Linked DNA regions of Homo sapiens. The protein of the gene in region 2 purifies or fractionates together with the protein of the main gene of each other region. This does not show direct contact. Each region holds a gene or a part of one and is shown on either strand. Other genes may lie near its edges.

Region 1 (3,655 bases), on a different chromosome or scaffold from region 2:
AATTAGTTGATACATGCAAAACAATTAGAACACACGGTAAACACACAATAAATAAACAGCTTTACTATTCTTCTATTATAATCACTGACTCAAACATGAGGTTTGTGAAAGGATAACAAATGCTAACAATAACAAGTCTCACCCCAAAATTAACCTGCCTATTTTTGGCAACTTTTTTTTTTTTTTTTTTGAAACAAGGTCTCGCTTTGTCACCCAGGCTAGAGTGCAGTGGTGTGATCTCAGCTCACTGCAGTCTTGACTTCCTGGGTGCAAGCCATCCTCCCCACTCAGCCTCCCAAGTAGCTGGGACTACAGGCGCATGCCAACACACCCAGCTAATTTTTATATTTTTTGTAGTAACAGGGTTTCACCATGTTGCCCAGGCTGGTCTCGAACTCCTGGACTCAAGTGATCTGACCACCTCGACCTCCCAAAGCGCTGGGATTACAAACTTGAGTCACCGCACCCAGCCTTCTGGCAACTTCATGCTCAATGGTATTACTCAAAAAAAATAAATAGGCCGGACACAGTGGCTCACGCCTGTAATCCCAGCACTTTGGGAGGCAGAGGTGGGTGGATCACGAGGTCAGGAGTTCGAGACCAGCCTGGCCAACATGGTGAAACCCCGTCTCTACTAAAAATACAAAAATAAGTCAGGCGCAGTGTCGCACACCTGTAATCCCAGCTACTCAGGAGGCTGAGGCAGGAGAATCGCTTGAACCCAGAAGGCAGAGGTTGCAGTGATCTGAGATTGCACCACGGCACTCCAGCCTGGACAACAGTGCGAGACTCCATCTCAAAAACAAAATAATAAACAAATAAATAAATAAATAAAATAAAAGAGAACCCTAACAGTCAATTTTGCTTCTCCTACAAAGTGTGGTAGCAGATATAACTGAAAGTTGCAGATTTCATTTAAATTGATATGACGTAAATTACTTCAAATGCAAGGCAGAAAATGTTCATTTGAAATCTATAGAAATGCAGTTTTACCAGCTACACATCTCAAAATAACAGACCTGGGAATCACATATGATATTACTTTAGTATTATCCATATCATACAGTCATATTTTGGTCCTTACTTATCTGTTTACACATATTCTTCCTCTTCCTCAATAGTATTGTAATTCCTTTGGTGGGCTTTGGTGTCTCTTTTGTACCCAACAGCAATGATAAACAACAGTCAAATGGTTGGATTAAGGTAACATCTAGCTGAGAATCTGGCAATGCATCTGATTTGAACTGTTCATCATACACACTCTGACTATGGTGCAAAGAGGTAAGATGGCCTCAAGGATGGCTGTGAGTGCATACTAGAGACTGAGGACACTGGGACTACTTTCCAGCTGCAGGACCCAGGGGACCTAAGAAGCCTGTTTCTCTCTCCATAAAGCAGCAATAATAATGTTACCTACCTTTCAGGGTTATTCTGAGGAATAATACATACAAAGCATTTAAAACAATGCTGGTGCTGAAATATTTAGGGGGAAGGTGTGTTGGTGTCACCAATTTACTTTGAAATGCATAAAAAAAGATGGAGTAATAAGTACTTAATACCACTGTACACTTAAAAACTGTTAAGGCAGGCAGGGCACAGTGGCTCACACCTTTAATTCTAGCACTTTGGCAGACCAGGAGGGGCGGATCATGAGGTCAGGAGGTCGAGACCAGCCTGGCCAACACGGTGAAATCCTGTCTCTACCAAAAAAAAAATTAGCCGGGCATGGTGGCGCACACCTGTAATCCCAGCTACTCGGGAGACTGAGGCAGAAGAATCACTTGAACCCAGGATGTGGAGGTTGCAGTGAGCCAAGATGGCGCCATTCCACTCCAGCCTGGGCGACAGAGCAAGACTCCGTCTCCAGAAAAAGACAACAAAAAAAATTGTTAAGGTGGTAAATTTTATGTTATGTGTATTTTACTACTATTTTTTAAAAAATAAAGTAAAACTAAAAAAGTTTAACAATTGGCCAAGCATGGTGGCTCACGCCTGTAATCCCAGCACTGTGGGAGGCTGAGGTGGGGGGATCACGAGGTCAGGAGTTCAAGACCAACCTGGCCAAGATGGTGAAACCTCGTCTCTACTAAAAATGCAAAAATTAGCTGGGCGCAGTGACAGGTGCCTGTAATCCCAGTTACTCAGGAGGCTAAGGCAGGAGAATTGCTTAAACCCAGGCGGCAAAGGTTGCAGTGAGCCGAGATCGCGCGCCACTGCACACCAGCCTGGGTGACAGACTGAAACTCCGTCTCAAAAAAAAAAAAAAAAAACTTTAACAATTTTTAAAAATCTACTGAGATGGACAAATGACAAAGTTTGCTATAATAGTAAATATGATAAAGTTATTTGACTATCAATGATAGAATCTAAGTGGTGGGTACACGAATGTTCACTTTCAACTTTTCTGTGTGTTTGAAGATTTTTTACAATAAAATGTTAGTGGAAGAGAACAATGCTGGCATCTAGTAGTTTGCTTTTACTATCATCTACTAGTCATAAATGATAGAAAATATTTGGATAATTCTCTCCTTTTTTTTTAGTGGAATTCTTAAAAGCACCTTTTCTTTTTTTTTTTTTTTTTTTTTTTGAGACAGAGTCTAGCTCTGTTGCCCAGGCTGGAGTGCAGCGGCACAATCTTGGCTCACTGGAACTTCCACCTCACAGGTTCAAGTGATTCTCCTGCCTCAGCCTCCTGAGTACCTGGGACTACAGGCACGTGCCGCCACACCAGGCTAAATTTTGTATTTTTAGTAGAGACAGGGTTTCACCATGTTGGCCAGCCTGGTCTTGAACTCCTGACCTCAGGTGATCCACCCATCTCGGCCTCCTAAAGTGCTAGGATTACAGGTGTGAGCCACCACACCTGGCCAAAAGCACATTTTATCAGCATCTGCTATTTTATTATACCCATTCTAAAACTAAAAGTGGTTTATATGAAACTTCTTAACCAGTGTACATGTATATGCTTTCAAGTTAAATTATTCTAAGGTATCAACTGCAACGTATTCAGTCTCTCCTGAAGAAATACAGAAACCAAGTCCACCGATATCTGTGGCTGATGACTGACAATTTAACTGAACAAAACAAGAAGAAGGCAAGGATTGGAATTATTTGTTCCTAACTTTCCATTAGGTACTAGAGCCAGGAAATCCCTTAACTATCAGCATCTTAACCAGTACCTGAATGTATGGAAGCACACTGCATAGACACAAATACTTCAGCCACTTCAGAATATCCAATTCTTCCTCTAGTTTTGTTCCCATTCCTGCTATCAATTCAGACTTTAATGTGTTTGGTTCTACAACAGGAACTCAGATGTCATACAGCATAGCAATTGAAAAAAAATCAGACCACCTCACACCCAACAGGATGGTTACTACTGACAATATAGATAAGTGTCGGCCAGGATATAGAGAAATTAGAACTCTGTGTATTGTTGGTGGTAATGTAAAATGGTACAACCACTGTCAAAAACAGTACAGTGGGGGCCGGGCGCGGTGGCTCACGCCTGTAATCCCAGCACTTTGGGAGGCCGAGGCGGGTGGATCACAGCAGATCACAAGGTCAGGAGATCAAGACCATCTTGGCTAACACAGTGAAACCCCGTCTCTACTAAAAATACAAAAAATTAGCCGGGCGTGGTGGCGGGCGCCTG
Region 2 (3,655 bases):
CATAAAGGTGGGCAGAGACTGCCCATCTTCCTTTCTGTTTCCTAGCCACAGAATCCATATGCTCTGACATCTCCCCTAAATTGGCTAGTCTTTCTGCTCCATATTCACATCAACCTCAAACCCAACCAAGCTTTAGGTAGACAGTTTTCTTATTTATCAGCAATGTGGTATAAGAGGAATGAGCACACACAAATTCTAGATCCAGATTCAGAGACCTTGAATTCCCAGCTACACTGAATCTCTCTTAGAATGATTTTACATGTATAAAATAAAATACTTATGATTACAAAGGAAACCAACTAACTTGCACCCCAGGTTAAGAACCCTCACTTAGAAAATCTAAGTTCTCTCAATGTTTTTCAAAATGAAAAAAGTGACACCTCTCATTGCATAGTTAGGCATATTTTAAAAGACAGTGTATGTAAAGTGTCTGGCAAGACAACTAGGTAGTTTTAATACCTCCATGGTTAATTCAAATCTTATCAAGGTATCACTTATTAAGTTAGGAGCAGGGGAAAGAGGATCTTCAACACAATTATCTAATATCTATTCAGCAAAAAAAAAAAAAAGTGCAGAATTAAGAAGGATTAAGATCTTAAGTGGTTTCCCAAAACTTAAGCAACATCACAGTTCTTACCAGATCACTATCTAAAGCTTAAGATAACCCTAAACCAAAAGACAGACAGGGCCCCTTTCCATATCCCAATTTTTGAGTGATTTGAAAAAAAAAAAAAAAAGTTTACCTCCTTAAAAACAATTTAAGTTTATGACTTTCAAATATTATGCTGTATTAGCCAAAAATCACATTATTTTGGTTTGGAAAAAGATGACTTTAAAAAATATATAAGAAAACCAACAAGTTGTGAGCTTTCTTCAATATTGTTCAAAAGTTTCCTATCAAAACCATATATGTCAGTCAGGCATGGTGACTCACACCTGTAATCCCGGCACTTTGGGAGGCCAAGACAGGAGGATCACTCGAGTCCAGGAGTTCTAAACCAGCCAAGGCAACGTGGGGAAACTTCGTCTCTACAAAAAATACAAAAATTAACCAGGAGTGGTGGTGCCCACCTGTGGTCCTAGATATTCAGGAGGCTGAGGTGGGAGAATTGCTTGAGCCAAGGAAGTTGAGGCTGCAGTCAGCTATGATTGTGCCACTGCACTTCAGCCTGGGTGACAGAGTGAGACCCCATTTCCAGAAAAAACAAAGCATCTTTCATTTGTGCCTTAAGGTTTGAGGTTTTACACTTAATGACATCCCCCAAAAAAGCTTCTTCTGTGGACATTTCTACAAAAAAACACTTATTTTATTTTTTGAGACAGAGTCTCAATCTGTTGCCCAAGCTGGAGTGTAGTGGCGCGATCTCAGCTCACTGCATCCTCTGCCTCCCAGATGCAGGTGATTCTCGTGCCTCAGACTCCCAAGTAGCTGGGATTACAGGTGAGTGCCACCCACACCTGGCTAATTTTTGCATTTTTAGTAGAGACTGGGTTTCACCATGTTGGCCAGGTTGGTCTTGAACTCCTGACCTCCTGACCAGATGATCCACCCGTCTTGGCCTACCAAATTATTGGGATTACAGACATGAGCCACTGCGCCTGGCCTAAAAAGACATTTAAATTCAGTAAGAACTAAAGTGACTTGACCAAGCTCATGCAAGCTGACAGATGCAGCTAGTTTCTATTCTAAATTGTGTTATTTCACCCATGCTCCTTTGGCCCACAATGAGATGTGACTTACACTGTGTGGCTTCAAAGGCCAGAGTCAACTATGATTCACTACCTATAATTGTGAAATCTGCTCTTCTTTTAATGGGTATTTTGCAAATGTGTACCTTATTAGTACCTATGAAACACCTTGACCAAATGCTCGATATTTCAGATTTTTCAAGCCAATGTTTCCCCAACAGAAAATCTTTCTGATATATGAATTAATATTGTATCTAATAAACTAATATCAAAATCTCCCACTCTTACCATACTCTCATCTCACCTGACTATATGATTATAAAGGCCATCAGAAACACCAATGAAAATGTTTCCAAGTTTAAAAGCAGGAGCACAGAATGATATGGTTTTTAGACAAATTTTTAATTACATGTCTATTTTATGCCTTGCACTACAATGCAGGATACCACTTAATTCACTACTCCACAAAGAAATTAATTCCTTGTGCTTCCACTTATGTCTTCTTATGCCTAAATGTTTGTCGAAGATCCCAAGGTCCAGCATTCAATTAAAAGGGGTAAACAGTTTTTATACCGTGCTAGAAGTTTTTTCATTTTACATGGCTTGACTGGCAGCAGATTGCACTAACATTAAAGTTTCAATGGTGTGCAAAAATGAAAGGCTAGGCATTAGTCAAGGCACCAAATTGCTGACAATAGCAGGAAATGGTACATACAGATGGCAAGGACTAATTGCCTGCTAAGGACACCTGTAAGGACTAAGAAGGGGCATTAGACGCAAGAAACAGGTAGGCTTCAAAGAAAAAAGGACAAGTTAAGGAAGCAGGGCATTAGACTCAAGAAAAAGGTAGGCTTCAAAGAAAAAAGGACAAGTTAAGGAAGCAGGGCATTCCCACCACGCATAATTATGTGAACAAAATCAGCTAGGAAGCAACTCATTTCATACTCAAGTAGAAAGAGCAGGATAAAAATAAGATTAAAGCAGTCTTTATAGCCACATCTAATTAAGATCTGTTGTTATTCCAGATGAAGAGAATGCTACTGCCTCATCAGTAGATTCTTTCTAAACTGTTTCTCCATAGGAGAGGTAATAATTTTATGATTCCTTCACTTATCCATTCAAATAGCTGAGCACACACTACATGCCAAGCAGTGTTCTCGGTGCTAGGGATATAGAGGCTAGCAAAATAAAATGCTCTAACCTCGCTCTACCTGAATATTAAAGCCTAGTGTTTAAGGTCTGGAGACAAACTCAAGTTATTTAACTTCTTTAAGCCTCAGTTTTTGACACTAAAAATGTAGTTTACCATCTAGGATATTTGTGAGGATTAAATGAAGTAATCGCCACATAATATCCATTTAATGATTATTTTTTCTTTGCTAAATCCTGATGTAACCATTTAATCATAGTTATCCACTGTTATTATGTCTTCACCTTAACTTCTCTGTAACCAACTACTAGACATATTCTCTTTTTGTCATCTAAGTAAGTGGTTTTGTTATAAAGTCTCTCTAGGTGAAACAAAGTTAACAAGCCTTGGCCTCATTAATATCATCCATAACTATCTAAACAAGCCAGTCTAGACAGACTTGTATTTGTCCTAATAATAGAAGAATGGTTACATATTACTTGAATGTTATTTATTGACATTCATCTCAGCCCCTCGCCCCACCCCCATCTCACCCCCCAAAAACTTAATGCCCCTAAACCCTAGTGTAAGCATGGTCTTAGTTACTTGGTTCCTGCCTCCATCTCACCAAGCACAAATTGGTTTTGGTGTTTTGAGCCCAGGAGTTCCAGACCAGCCTGGGCAACAAGACCCCCCAACTCTAAAATCAAGGTAAAATAAAATCCTGGTTTTTTTTAATGCAACATGGCCCCCAAACTTAACATCTGCTACTCAACTAAGGAATGCAGTGATAAATCATGACTAGAAAAGAGACAGAAGATTGGCATCTTACATGAG
Region 3 (3,655 bases), on a different chromosome or scaffold from region 2:
TGTTCTAGAGTCTGAGGATTTTCTTTCAGTGGCAGACAACAAAGGATGTTACAATTTACTTCAAAATAATACAATCATGGTTTAATTTACAGTGTAAATCCATAACTATTTTATAGAGATGGATTATAATACATGGGATTATAAAAAATAACTTACCCATATGTTTGCAAAATAGATTTTCCTTATTGTGAGGAACATTTTTTAAACTTAAAACGGTATTTATTCAGTATGAATAGAAAAGTAAATTTTTTCAGAAGACCCAGCCTACCTGCATGATCTCTTGTACAGCTTTGCAGGCCTCTTCTTTGCTCTTTGCAACAATCACCCCTTTTCCAGCTGCAAGACCACTGGCCTTCACAACCAAAGCAGGGAAGTCTGCACTGTAAAGACAGAGTAATCGTCAACATCCAATAAACCATTACAACTCAAGATTTTAAAATGCTGTGGGATTTTGTAACGATATGCTATAGCAATGACTGAAAAGCAGAAAGAAAAAAATTAATTATCATTCCAACACATTTTGATGTACTTCCCACCAGGATTTTTTCCCCTACGTATTCCTTTGTAGTTCCAATCATACAGTACCTACAATTTTGCTTTTTTCATTTATCATGAGATTACATAGGCAATATCTTTGGAAGAATAAGTAGATGTATAGAGTAGATATGGCATAATCTCTAAGATACAAAGTAGCAAATAGTACTCTCATTCAGGTAGAAAATGCGGCTGTATAACAACAGTAAGCATACACAGACCATTTCTGGGAGTACACATATGAAATTATCAAGTGGGCCTGGGGGTCTGGAAGGAGACTTACCCAAAGTAAGTAACAAAACTGTTACTTGCTCAAGGCATCTGGCTGCTAGGAAATAATAATATTCAGTGTTTAAGAAACTCTTTAGGATATGAATGAAAAAAAAATGAAACTGACACAACTGAAAGGAAAACATAACCAGGAAGCAGAAGTGCCAACAAAAAAAGGGCAAATGCATGTGTCTACTAACACTCATTAATTGCTCAATGCTTTCCACATAATAGAGAACAAAGGATGTTTAATTTTGAAATTTAAAATTGCAATAGTGGCCAGGCGCGGTGGCTCACGCCTGTAATCCCAGCACTTTGGGAGGCCGAGGCGGGCGGATCACGAGGTCAGGAGATCGAGACCATCCTGGCTAACACAGTGAAACCCCGTCTCTTCTAAAAATACAAAAAATTAGCCTGGAGTGGTGGTGGGCGCCTGTATTCCCAGCTACTCGGGAGGCTGAAGCAGCAGAATGGCATGAACCTGGGAGGCGGAGCTTGCAGTGAGCCGAGATAGAGATAGCGCCACTGCAGTCCGGCCTGGGTGAAAGAACGAGACTCAAAAAAAAAAAAATAAATAAATAAATAAAAATAAAAATAAATAAATAAATAAATAAAATAAAATGGCAATAGTGGTGGCAGATGACCAAGTGATGATTACTCACTCTGGTTAATTATTTATGACAAAAAAAATCAATGTTCTTTATGTTGTAAGATGCCACTGCGTTTGTCAATCTGACCGTGAGGCCTAGTGTTACGGCTCATGCCTGTAATCCCAGCACTTTGGGAGGCAGAGAGAGGCGGATCTCTTGAGCTTAAGAGTTTGAGACCGGCCTGGGAAACATGGTAAAACTCCGTCTCTACAAAAAATATAAAAACTAGCTGGGAGTAGTGGTGTGTGCCTATTGTCCCAGCTACTTGGGAGGCTGAGGTGGGAGGATCACTTGAGTCCAGGAAGCAGAGGCTGCTGTGAGCCAAGATCACGCCACTGCACTCCAGCCTGGGTGACAGAGAGAGGCCCCGTCTCAGGTTGGGGGGTGGTGGTGGGGGGCGGGGAACCAAAAACCAAAAACATGGCTGTGAAGAGCGCACAACTGCAGAACCAAGTGTATTTTTCCCCTGAGGAACTACTCAGATTTTATTAAAAATGTCATCTTCCTGCAAGGCCACAAGATCATATAAACTCTGTATGCATAGGATCCCATTTTATTTTGGTTCTGGAAAACGACAACCCACATAATATTTATTGAGAAAGTTTTTTCCTTAATTATCTTACTACATCTTGAGACAGCCTAAAGACCTAGCATTACATTTTCAACACAGAAGTGACCTGTATATTTATTTAATTTTTTTGAGACAGGGTCTCACTCTGTCACCCAGGCTGCAGTGCAGTGGCACAATCTTGGCTCAGTGCAGCCTCCGCCTCCTGGGTTCAAGTGATCCTCCCACCTTGGCCTTTAGAGGAGCTGGGACTACAGGTGCACACCATCATGCCCGGCTTTTTTTTTTCTGTATTTTTTGTAGAGACAGGGTTTTACCATGGTACCCAGGCTGGTCTCTAACTCCTGAGCTCAAGTGATTCACCTGCCTTGGCCTCCCAAAGTGCTGGGATTACAGGTGAGCTACTGTGCCTGGCCACTGACCTGTGTATTTAAATATCAAAACTAAACAACTGTCCTTCACAGACAACCATTTACCTACCTCAAAATGAAGCTGCAGGCTTCTTCAGGTTTGGTGAAAGCCTTCCATTGTGCGGTTGGGATTCCATGTCTGTCCATAAACTCTTTGGCAAACCTTTTGCTGGACTCTAACTGAGCCGCTTCTGCTGTTGGGCCAAAGCATTGCACTCCTGCAGACCTCAGGTTCCCAACAATCCCTATTGATGAAAACAGTAGCCTTAGGTGAACCAAGGTCTCCCCAGGGGCTTTTCAGCCTGAAGACGAATTAGTATCAGACTATATCTACATCTAGACAAGGCAGATGACTGGTGGCAGAGGATAACTAACTTTTTCATGTTGTCTACTGGATAGAGATAAAATGCTATTAACATGTTATTCAAATCTATCAAAAGTTGTTATATTTGCATATATGGATTATTAAACACACACCAGAATACAGCAGAATAAAGACATATAAAATGTTTTCCATGGCTGCAAATTTGATCTCTAACTCATCATATAACTGATGCTTGGGAAAAAAAATCTAGACTCCATAAATTTCGAGAGTGGAAGCTCTTTTTCCAAGATAATATTACAAATTCTCATCTGTAAAATGAATTGGATTAGATGATCCCTAAGCTTCTGTTTGCACTGAATATACTGTAACAATAAACAGAAACAAACTTTACCAGCAGCCAGAGGTGCTTCTGGTCCAACAACTACAAATTCAATTTTCTTCTCTTTGCAGAATTGAGCAAGGGCAGTGTGGTCACTGATTGAGATGGCTGTAAACAGAAAAAAAAAAAAAAAAACCACTGCATTTACAAAAACATTCCACTTAAGTAAACTAAGTGTCTCACTAAAAAAACTAAGTTCTATACTTTAGTATGCTTGTTATCTGTTGGTTTTCTTATATTGGCAGAGATGACAGTTTCAACATGTGAAATTCAGAGGAGAGTGCATTAGGCTAACCAACAGAGCTCAGTTCTCCGTTATCATTGTAGACAGATGAAAACACCAATAAACTTCCCAAAGAGCCATAAAGTATCACCTCCATGATATTGTTCACGTCACTAATATTGACTGTATATTAAACAAAAAACGTAAGATATACTCAGAAATTGGTCTTTTAATGTCAATCAATCAATTGTACTGAAAATCCACTATGTGCTAAGTACTGTCCTCAGCACTGGTAT

Evidence for each region.
Region 1: the proteins of KDM3A (region 2) and ECPAS fractionate together in Homo sapiens (co-fractionation; one large-scale study listed by BioGRID). This does not show direct contact.
Region 3: the proteins of KDM3A (region 2) and GART fractionate together in Homo sapiens (co-fractionation; one large-scale study listed by BioGRID). This does not show direct contact.

The regions. Positions count from the first base shown.
Region 1 is NC_000009.12:111,477,729-111,481,383, forward strand, and holds part of ECPAS (proteasome adapter and scaffold protein ECM29), read right to left. Parts: intron 1-3,655. UniProt on the Homo sapiens protein: Adapter/scaffolding protein that binds to the 26S proteasome, motor proteins and other compartment specific proteins. May couple the proteasome to different compartments including endosome, endoplasmic reticulum and centrosome.
Region 2 is NC_000002.12:86,444,371-86,448,025, reverse strand, and holds part of KDM3A (lysine-specific demethylase 3A), read right to left. Parts: intron 1-3,655. UniProt on the Homo sapiens protein: Histone demethylase that specifically demethylates 'Lys-9' of histone H3, thereby playing a central role in histone code.
Region 3 is NC_000021.9:33,532,077-33,535,731, forward strand, and holds part of GART (trifunctional purine biosynthetic protein adenosine-3), read right to left. Parts: intron 3,245-3,655; coding exon 3,149-3,244; intron 2,678-3,148; coding exon 2,503-2,677; intron 381-2,502; coding exon 269-380; intron 1-268. UniProt on the Homo sapiens protein: Trifunctional enzyme that catalyzes three distinct reactions as part of the 'de novo' inosine monophosphate biosynthetic pathway.